Linked DNA regions of Homo sapiens. The protein of the gene in region 1 interacts with the protein of each later gene in a biochemical or structural test. Each region holds a gene or a part of one and is shown in the gene's direction. Other genes may lie near its edges.

Region 1 (3,500 bases):
TCCCCCTTTTTTGCTAAACTGGTCTATTTTTGTGTTAAATGATCATAAATGATGTTATTTAGAACAGAAGTATCTGTTCTAAAATTGGAATGGAATATTAGGCATATCAGGCATTAGCTATAGGAAATATTTCAAAAATGAAATGGTTAAAATGGGAATATCAGGCATTAGCTGTAGGAAATATTGGTAAAATGGCATATCAGGCATATGGTAAAAATGGAATGTCAGGCATATCAGGCATTAGCTGTAGGAAATATTTTCTTTCTTGCTTGCTTTCCCTTCCTTCCCTTCCTTCCTTCCTTCCTTCCTTCCTTCCTTCCTTCCTTCCTTCTTCCTTCCTTCCTTCCTTCCTTCCTTCCTTCCTTCCTTCCTCCCTCCCTCCCTCTCTTTCTTCTGTTTTCTTTCCTCTTCTTATTTATTTATTTATTTTTTTGACAGAGCCTTGCTCTGTCACCCAGGCTAGAGTGCAATGGCACGCTCTTGGCTCACTGCAACCTCCACCTCCCAGGTTCAAGCAATTCTCCTGCCTCAACTTCCTGCAGAGCTGGGATTACAGGCGCGCACCGCCATGGGTGGCTAATTTTCATATTTTTAGTAGAGACAGGTTTCACCTTGTTGGCCAGGCTGGTCTCAAACTCCTGACCTCAAGTGATCCACCTGCCTTAGCTTCCCAAAGTGCTGGGATTACAGGCATGAGCCACCTCAGCAGGCCTAGCTGTAGGACATATTTTCTGATAAAAATGACATTATTGATGGAAAAAGCCCCTATATTTAGAGTATTTGGAGAATGATTAGAGTTTTTGCTGTATTAGAAGGAATGATATAAATTTGAATGTCTTAAATCTTGAGTTAGTTATGAAATAAAATCACTTTTCTAAGAGAGCTTTTAAAATGCAGTTTGTTTGGAGCATTATCTATATTAATTATATTCATTTTAATTTGTATCTTAGGAATCTTTGGAGTGCGGGAGAACCATGTCAAATTTTCAGTCCTTTAATATTAATTTAGCTTCAGGTTACTGAGATCACTTTGGTAGTGAGCCAATATGGTCACCAAATTTGGATGAGAATTCTAGATGCTGAGTGTCTGAAAAACAGTTGTGGATATGTGTCCTATGCTTGGTTATTTTTCTAAACTTGTGTAGAGATATTAAATCACTTTCATGAGATGAATTTTCAGCATCAAAAATATAAGCTACTTTAGAAGACGAAAACGAAGCGTAACTCTCTGTTAAAGAAAAATTAAGACAAAAGCTTTTGAAGTTGAATCCTGCCTGTCCTTTTCAACCTTCAGGAAGGTTGCTAGGCTAGAAAGACATCTCTAAAAACAAAGTTTTTATAATGGAAAATGCGCTGACATACCCTTTAATGATATAGGTTCAAATGGCAGTGATATAATTTGTAGGTCTTTGTGCTTGGAAATGTCTGGAAAGTTGTAGTGCTCTTATTAATATTTGTAGTCACTTTTTATGAATTAGTATTTCTTGTTGTTTTTCATTTTTATTTAATTTAAGATGAATAAATCTTATTATTAAATAACATGAAGATTGCATCATAGCCTTCAGGATTAAAATGCACTCCTTTTTTGGGGAAGAAGATAGATGTGTTTCCTCTGTTGAAAAATTTAGATTTGATATTTTGTTTTCTTCATGGTAATTATGTTTGCACTTTGCTGATCACTAGTTGTGCATTATTACAATGGAAGGTGACAATTTGATTGTCTTCAATTGGAGAAACAAGTAATTTTATATTCACTAAGCTGTCAGGTAACACTAACTCACAGTACTAAGAGCTCCTGGCAATGCAGCTTGGCACCTATATTTAACTGCTTTGATGCTTGTGTAACCTCTGCTGAATCAGAAGTACTTTGCCTGCTGGAAATGATTTTCAGGCTTGTACAATGAGGTTTTCATTAAGTAGACAAACTGAAAATGAACTGCAAAGCCATGGTTGTTTTTCTCCTCCCCTTTTACCTTCTCCCCTTTTCCCCTCCTCTTCCCCTCCCTTTCTACTCTCACTCCCTTCCTCCCTCCCTCTTCTTTCTCTTCTTCTTGTCTGTCTTTGAATAGGAACCTGAAACTTATACCTTATTTCATCACATGAAAGAGTGGACTTGGTAGATTGCCTTATTTAGCTAAAGGAGGACCTCAGAGATTAGTTTCTTTATATAAATTTGTTCAGTGTTTGTGTGAATTTTCATATTTTGAAACAATCTAAAGTATCAATATTCATTTTTCTCTTTTTTTCTGGAAATATTGAAGAGGGAAATTCGAGTTAAGGATGGAAAAGTATACAGTGACAATTTCCTACACTTTGTCTCTGAGAAGTTATTGTTCTGGTTTATGATTTTTATTAATATAATTGGATAAGATATCCTGTACTTGGGCTTCCATATTAATGGGCCAGTTTCACGCTGACAGAGAGATGTCTGTTTATTCACTTAAAAAATTGTAGTTCTCATTTTATATGAAGAGGAAATTCAAAGTGAACTTACATAAATAAATTCATTCTGCTATTATTTTAGACAGCTTTCTTTCACTCCAGCCACACAGAGGTCTTTCGTTGAGCTATAAAGTCATTGTGCTAGATTAAAATCCTCTAAGTTAGTGTATATTTATAGTAGCCATTGTTAGGTTTTACTCTTATTGTTAAGTCACTGAATTTATTTATAAAATCTGGGCCTGGCTTTCCAAAGCAAAAATTCCAAAAAGTTATTGGTAGATAAACTGTGAGAAGACCATATTATTTATATCAAGCAAAAAGTATAGATAGAGGTTACATGAAGTCAAGTTGTTTTGATCCCAGGAAGAAACCAGATACTCAGGGACACTTAATAATTATAGGTTTTCCATAGGCAGTCAGTCAGCAGGCCAGTCATTAGGCTGGCTGCCTGTCTCTTCCAGCAGATACTAACCAATTAGACAGAGGTAGTTACGTGATGTAACATTATCAGGAGAAACAATTCATGAGTCAAAGCATTCCAAGACATATGAGCTCTAGTCCAAAGAACAGTCTTAAGCTACATAAAGTGACAGCAATATTGTCAGCTAAATATAAACTCTAGAAACACAAACTTTGATGACTTAAGAAGAATCTGTTCCAGGTAGTTCTTGTTTTGTAAGAAGCTCAGAGGGCCTTTGGAGACAATTTTGGTGCTTTGCTGTGAAAAATTGGACCCTTAGAAAAGTCAGAATCCATTAATTTAAGCACTTTCTTAGACACACTTCAAGGGCTTCAAATGTATTTCATTTACCTCATCTCCATTGATTTGACAGCTAATTCTAATCAGTGAGTTTTCTTCTAATAGTTACTGTCCTCATGTGTTACCATATCTGTTCTGAAAGTGCTGCTACAAACTCTAGAAGATAGGTTTATAACTTTCCAAGGTAATTCTGAAAACAGTTACCTTCTTTTCACCTGAATTTTCTTAATTACTTAATGGAAGAAATAGAAAAATCTGGCAGAAGCAGAGGGAAGTTTGGAGGTGGATTGGGGGAGAGG
Region 2 (3,500 bases), on another chromosome or scaffold:
GGCTGAGAGAGGGAAAGTGACCTGCCCCAGATCACACACCGAGGCAGGTGATGGAGCCGATGTGAGCCCAGGCCTCCGCTTTCCGCTCTTTTTTTTTTTTTTTTTTGAGATGGAGTCTTGCTCTGTTGCCCAGGCTGGATGGAGTGCAGTGGCGCAATCTCGGCTCACTGCAAGCTCCACCTCTCGGGTTCACACCATTCTCCTGCCTCAGCCTCCCAGGTAGCTGGGACTACAGGCGCCTGCCACCACGCCCGGCTAATTTTTGTATTTTTAGGAGACAGGGTTTCACTGTGTTAGCCAGGATGGTCTCCATCTCCTGACCTGTGATCCTCCCGCCTCGGCCTCCCAAAGTGCTGGGATTACAGACGTGAGCCACCGCACCCGGCTCCACTCGTTTTTTAAGAGAGGGTGTCGCCCTGTTTCCCAGGCTGGAGTGCAGTGGCACAACAATGGTTCATTGCGGCCTCCACCTCCCAGGCTCAAGTGATCCTCCAGCCTCAGCCTCCTGAGTAGCTGGGACTACAGGCACGGACCACAACACCTGGCTAATTTTAACACTTTTTGTAGAGATGGGGTCTCGCTGTGTTCCCCAGGCTGGTCTTGAAGTCCTGAGCTCAAGCGTTCCTCCTGCCTCGGCCTCCCACAGTGCTGGGATTACAGGCATGAGCCACTGCGCCCGGCCTGCTGTTCACTTGAATGCAGCATTCCACAGCATGGGGGAACCCGGATGAAGGCTGTGTGAAGGCCCACACTGGACAAGGACCCCCCACGGGGCCTTCCCCATCAGACTGGAGCTGTCATTCCCCCACAGCACAGGATGGACAGGGGGAACGTCCAGGCTCGGGCCAGCCCCCAGGAGTCCAGGCAGCCCTGGAGTGTGGGGAAGGGAAACAGGCCCAGCTCAGCCTACTGACCCCGCTGTCTTCCTGTTCCAGACACGACCGACTTCCAGGAGAGCTTTGTCACCTCCGGCGTGTTCAGCGTCACTGAGCTCATCCAAGTGTCCCGGAGTGAGTGTTCCCGTCAGCCCTGAGCTGGGTCTTGGAGAGGGGAGGGGGCCGCAGGGAGGAAGGAGCCCACCCCCCTCACCCTACTCCTTGTCCTTTCCAGACAACCCCCTGTGTCACTAAGCCAAGGTTCCTAGAAAGGGAGGTGGCCAGGCCCTTCCCAGAGCCCAAGGTCAGGGCTCCCTCCCACCTCTCCAGGAAACAGAATCTAAATGCTGGATGGCAACTAAGGAAACTTCTGCCCCAGCATCCCTCCTCCTCCCTGGGGCCTCCACTGTCCTGTCCCAGGAGACCCCAAAGGACCCCGCCCCTCCTGTCCCCTTGCTTTCTCTGCTGACCTGCTGGGGACCCAGCACATTCCGTCACACACTGTCTGAATCCCACCCCAGCGAGTCCTGGGCGCTGTCCTTCTTTAGCCCTGACTGACACCTTCCCTGTCCAGATCAGCAGAGCCTGGCCTCCAGCTTTGGCTACACCTCTGCCTCACAGTGTGCTCTTGGCCTCTCCCCATGGCCTTGGTCCTCTGATCCATAGAATAAAACTGGTTTCAGCCACCCTAGGAACCGGGCCAATATGGGAAGGGGGTCCCCCTTTGGACTGCACCCAGTGGCTTTCCCTACCTCTCTAAAGCAAACCGCAGCACTGGGCACTGCTTCCTGCCTCACTCTCCTCTGTCACCCTCTGCAGCACCCGTGGTGACTGGAACAGGACCCAACTTCTCCCTGGGGGAGCTGCAGGGGCACCTGGCATACGACCTGAACCCAGCCAGCACTGGCCTCAGAAGAACGCTGCCCAGCACCTCCTCCAGTGGGTAAGTACCCAGGTCCCCACCTCTGGGCATTTCATGACCCCATTCATCAACCCATCCCCTCTGGCCCGAGCTGACTCATTCCTCTCCCTGGAATACCTCTTTTCACGATTCACCTGGCCTGAGAAACTCCTACTCATCTCATCCTTCAAAACCCAGCCAGCCCCACGTGCCTCTTCCCCTAGCCCTGACAGCCCACCGTGGGCTCCCCCAGCCTCAAGTCCTGCCGGCTCAGCCAGCCCTTAGGACCCTCCCCACCCAGAAGAATGCAGACACAGGTTGTTGCTGAGATATGCTTTGTGACCTCGAGCAGGTCACACTGTGTGTGCCCCAGTTTCCCCATCCATAAAATGGGATCATACCCCTAACAGGCAGTTCTGAGGACTACAGGTGGCCAGGAGATTAGCCAGGCTGCCTGGGTTTTGGTCTCCACCATGCTAGCTTGGTGTCCGACCTGTGTTGAGACCCTCCCTGCCTCTGGCCCGGGTGTCCCATCCAAGCAATGGACAGGTTGGAACAGGCGTTCGTAGGGAACGGGCTGAACGCCCGCGGCTCCCGCGATGTCTCGCGATACTACCTCCCTCGCCCCCGCTCACTTAAGGACCGGAAGTAGCAAAGCCCGCCGTCGCGCCCCCCGCCCCGCGTCTCCCTGGTAACCAGCCTCTCCCCTTCCCTCGCCCATAAGGAGCAAGCGGCACAAATCGGGCTCGATGGAGGAAGACGTGGACACGAGCCCTGGCGGCGATTACTACACTTCGCCCAGCTCGCCCACGAGTAGCAGCCGCAACTGGACGGAGGACATGGAAGGAGGTAGGGCTGGTGGCGGGGGCGGAGCCGGCCTTCCGGTCTGAGTCACCGTGGCGGGAACTACGTCTTCCGGCAGCCACTGCGCGGGCGCCGCGGGGCAGGAAGCCGGCCTGGAGCCGCGGGGCCTCCTGGGAATTGTAGTCGTCCCGAGCTGCGCTTGGCTGGAAGTACGGTCCGGGTTCGCGTTCTCGGATCTCTTTGGTTCCGCTGCGGCGAAGGAGGGCAGAGACTGTCCCCTGCCTGACTCTCCTGCCCTCCGGCCGTGAATGCCACATCTCTGTGGGGTCCCCGAGCTGCAGGATGGACTCAGTAGTGACTCTGATCAACAGGGCGCCTCTTCCTGGGATCTGTCATAGAATCCCTCGTCTGTAGGGACCCTGTTTGTCCTCTTCCCCTCTAGAAGGTCCTGAGATGCCGGATCCCTTCTCATTGGGGTCCTTCTTGAGGTTACTTTTTTTTTTAACCAGGTTCCCATCTCCATGGGATCTTCTGGTTCTGCAGGAGACTCGTCTCCTTTCTGTAGGGTCTCCATTCCCATGGCGTCGTTTTCTAGGAAGATTTTATCCTCTTGCTTTTCTGTCTTCAGAAGGGTCCTCTCTGGGGTGTCTTTCTTTCTTTCTTTCTTTCTTTCTTTTTTTTGAGATGGAGTTTCGCTCTTGTTGCCCAGGCTGGAGTGCAATGGCGCGATCTCCGCTCACTGCAGCCTCCACCTCCCTGGTTCAAGCAATTGTCCTACCTCAGCCTCCCAAGTAACTGGGATTACAGGCATGCACCACCATGCCCGGCTAATTTTTTCTATTTTTAGTACAGACGGGGTTTCACCATGTTGGTCAGGCTGGTCTCAAACTCCCGACCTCAGGTGATTCGCCCGCCTCGGC
Region 3 (3,500 bases), on another chromosome or scaffold:
TAGTAAGTGAATAAGATTTAAGCTCCAGCAAAACTGGATTTTAACTCTGGCTTTTTCACTTATGAGTCAAGTGACATAGAAATAGTCTCAACTCTTCTGAAGATCAGTTTCTTAATCTGTAATACAGGGACTGATAGTAATAATGCCTGCCCTACTTGTGTCATTATCTATTAAGGACAATCAGTGAAAGCACTTTACAAATCCTAAAGTCACACACATTTAAATTATTTTTATCATTGGCCTCCACACTTCTCTTATACCATTAACCAAATGCTGAAATGTCAGAGAAATTACTGTCACTTGGTTGACTTTCTCCAAAGGAACTACATTACCCAAGAGATTCAGTCTGAGGGCAGGCTACGGATTTTTTTTTTTTTTTTTTTAATGACTGGTATTTTGAAAAACAAGTCCAGCAAACAGGCTGCTTCTCTCTTGTTTGATGTGGTCAGAATTCCTTCTTGGTCATGTGACCCCCTAACATTTCTTGATGCTTATTTTAAAAACACAAACAAACCTGTTTGGTTTTTGCTTTCTTTCTTTTTCAAATTAACCTTGGACACTATGGAGTTGACCGGAAGGGCAGGGTGGGAGATAGCATCTTACCTGGGTGCTGGTGGGAGAGCTATCGTCTGAAAAGCTCTGGGAAGTGAAAGATGGAAGAAGGAAAGTTGAGTTACTCAGACATCTGGTGCATCCTAACCCTAAAGCACCTCTCGGGGTTCCTGATGCTCTCAAGCACGCCTGGGTTCAGAATAAGAGGGGCCAGTCCTTTCTTCATAATAACTTTAAAAATTATTTTGAGGCTGGGCACAGTGGCTCACACCTGTAATCCCAGCACTTTGGGAGGCTGAGGTGGGCACATAACCTGAGGTCAGGAGTTCAAGACCAGCCTGGTCAACATAGTGAAATCCCGTCTCTACTAAAAATACAAAAATCAGCCAGGCGTGGTGGTAGGTGCCTGTGGTTCCATCCACTCGGGAGGCTGAGGCAGGAGAATTGCTTGAACCCACAAGGCGGAGGTTGCAGTGAGCAGAGATCATGCCACTGCACTCCAGCCTGGGCAACAGAGCTGGACTCCACCTCAAAAAAAGAAAAAAATTATTTTGAAACTATAAGTAGTAAACTAATGTATCATGGAAAAAGTGTAGGTGTGTTTAAAACTGATCGCGCCCTTATAATTACAATTAGAGTTAATGGGAAAACATTGGAAACATTTCTGATAACATCAGAAGCAAAATAAGCACATCTATTACAGCTGTTATTGTTTAATACTGTAAGTTCTAAGCAATATAATAGGACATGTAGACATATCAGTACTAGCAAGGAAAAGACCCTGTTACCATCAGATGCTTGTATTACAATTACATACTTGGAAAAAAATCAATGAGGAAAAGACACTAGTAGGATTCAGTGAAGTGGTCATGTACAAAGTAAATACACCAAAATCAGTAGCTTTCTCATACTAATCTGTCATTAAAATATAATGGTGATTACAATATAGGATCCTTGACCAAAAAAGAAAAAAAATTTTGTAATGTGTACTGGAGATGTGGAAAAAGTAGAGAAACCTTGTAATGGCTAATCTCCCCCAACCCTTAGTAATTTCTGAAGCTGGCTAGTAACTCAGACAGTCAACAATAGATGCACCATGAGGGCAGGGATCACTGTCTGTTTTACTTACTGCTCTATCCCCAGCACCTAGAATAGTGTCTGTCCCACAGTAGACACTTAATAATTGTGTTTTTTTCTTTTTTTGTAGAGATGATTTCACCATGTTGCCCAGGCTGGTCTTGAACTCCTGAGCTCAGGCAGTCCTCCTGTCTTGGCTTCCCAAAGTGCTGGGATTACAGGGGTGAAGCACCATGCCCAGCCAATAATTGTTATTGAGTGAATGAAGGAATGAATTTGAGAACTAGTCATGCCAAGGAATCGCTAAGTCACATCGTGTTGGAAACTGCTCTTTGTGGTCCAAGTCCACCCATGTTTCTCTTGTTTTTTTCTCTCCATCAGATCTCAGTCTCAGGAGGAGGTTTGCCCCCAGTCAGCACCTTGACGAATATCCACAGCCTCTCCCACCATAATCCCCAGCAATCTCAAAACCTCATCATGACACCCCTCTCTGGAGTCATGGCAATTGCACAAAGTAAGTTCTATTCTTGGTTGGAAAACTTGGGGGCAGGGAGAAGAAGAATGGGAAGCAAATTAATGTGGTGAAAAATAACTGTAGGTCTCCTTCAAACTCACCCACGACTAGTAGATTTGGTTTAACTTCTTTAGTTTCTCATCTGTCTCCTTAAATCCAATATTTGGATTGTTTAGCCTAAAACAAGAGAAAATTGTGGAATGGATTTGGATCCTGGTCACAGTTTAGCAGCTGTGCATCCTGGGTCAAATCATTGAACCTTCAGGAGATTCAATGTCCTCATCTATAAAATAGGTTGTTAAAGTGATCAACTGACAGTGAATATGAACATGCTTATAAATCTCTAAAGCATGAATATGTATAACATCGTAGCTTACACTTTGTCTTGAGTTCATTCCTATCACTAAGTAGGTGGTAGATTTTTCAGGAGGTTCTTTCTGTTTGGTGATGATGAAGTAAGAATGACAGGTTTCCTTCTAAATGGGGAGTTTTGTGTGGTATATGAAATCTCCTTGGCCAGCAGTGAAAATACACCAAGGGAGGATCCAGAGGGAAACTGCCATTGTATCTGAGAGCTTTGAAAACTTTAAGGAGAAAAAGCTTGCTTTGGCACATCACACGCCTGAAGACACGGAGATGGATCAGGTCCCTCCAGCTCCAGGAGGCTCATATTCAACAGCAAGCCTGTGCCCTCCCATACATGGGCCATCTTGAGGCATGAGAAGGCTGAAGGGAACTGTGGTTGTGGATATCTCTTTGAGAGTTTTAATGTTGATGAGTATTCAGCATATTTCCAGCTTCACTATGACAGCTCAGGTGTCGTTGTTTCTCAAAACCATCCTTGTGACCCTTGGATGTATTGCTGGATGTCTTGGGAGAGATCTAAGGGTAACACATTGGTCATCTTTCTTTCAACCTTGTATTGCTCCATTGTCCTCTTACCTTCCTTGTATCTAGGGCTCATGTTGGCCACCTCTTTGTTTTGTTTCTGCCTTTTTCTTTCTTCCCTCTTCTCTCCCTAAATCAGCTTTAGCTAGGGTCGGAACTTGGATTCTCACTTCTGAAGAGAATGACTTACACATCCTTTGAGGTCAGAACAGGGCTAAGCCCATTGGAGGCACACAAATTTATTGAATATGTGTGGCTCTCACTCTATCCTTAGCTGCTTGGAAATTGACACACAGTGCATTGATTTTGGCAGAAGGAAAATGGGAATGGGGAAGCATTTAGAGAACTCACAATATAAATGATCATTTTAAATGTATTGCCTTTTGACTGGGCCCTCTGGTATATGGAATATGGTAATTATACTAATACCAGAGTTTGGAATGAGATAAGATACCTAAAACCAGCTTGT

What was found.
Region 2: the proteins of SOX6 (region 1) and NFIC form a complex in vitro, tested with the Homo sapiens proteins (one study listed by BioGRID).
Region 3: the proteins of SOX6 (region 1) and HNF1B form a complex in vitro, tested with the Homo sapiens proteins (one study listed by BioGRID).

What each region holds. Positions count from the first base shown.
Region 1 is NC_000011.10:16,346,547-16,350,046, reverse strand, and holds part of SOX6 (transcription factor SOX-6), read left to right. Parts: intron 1-3,500. UniProt on the Homo sapiens protein: Transcription factor that plays a key role in several developmental processes, including neurogenesis, chondrocytes differentiation and cartilage formation.
Region 2 is NC_000019.10:3,432,583-3,436,082, forward strand, and holds part of NFIC (nuclear factor 1 C-type), read left to right. Parts: intron 1-935; coding exon 936-1,010; intron 1,011-1,694; coding exon 1,695-1,818; intron 1,819-2,500; coding exon 2,501-2,625; intron 2,626-3,500.
Region 3 is NC_000017.11:37,703,560-37,707,059, reverse strand, and holds part of HNF1B (hepatocyte nuclear factor 1-beta), read left to right. Parts: exon of another isoform or gene 1-2,010; coding exon 2,011-2,143; exon of another isoform or gene 2,144-2,320; intron 2,321-3,500. UniProt on the Homo sapiens protein: Transcription factor that binds to the inverted palindrome 5'-GTTAATNATTAAC-3'. Binds to the FPC element in the cAMP regulatory unit of the PLAU gene. Transcriptional activity is increased by coactivator PCBD1.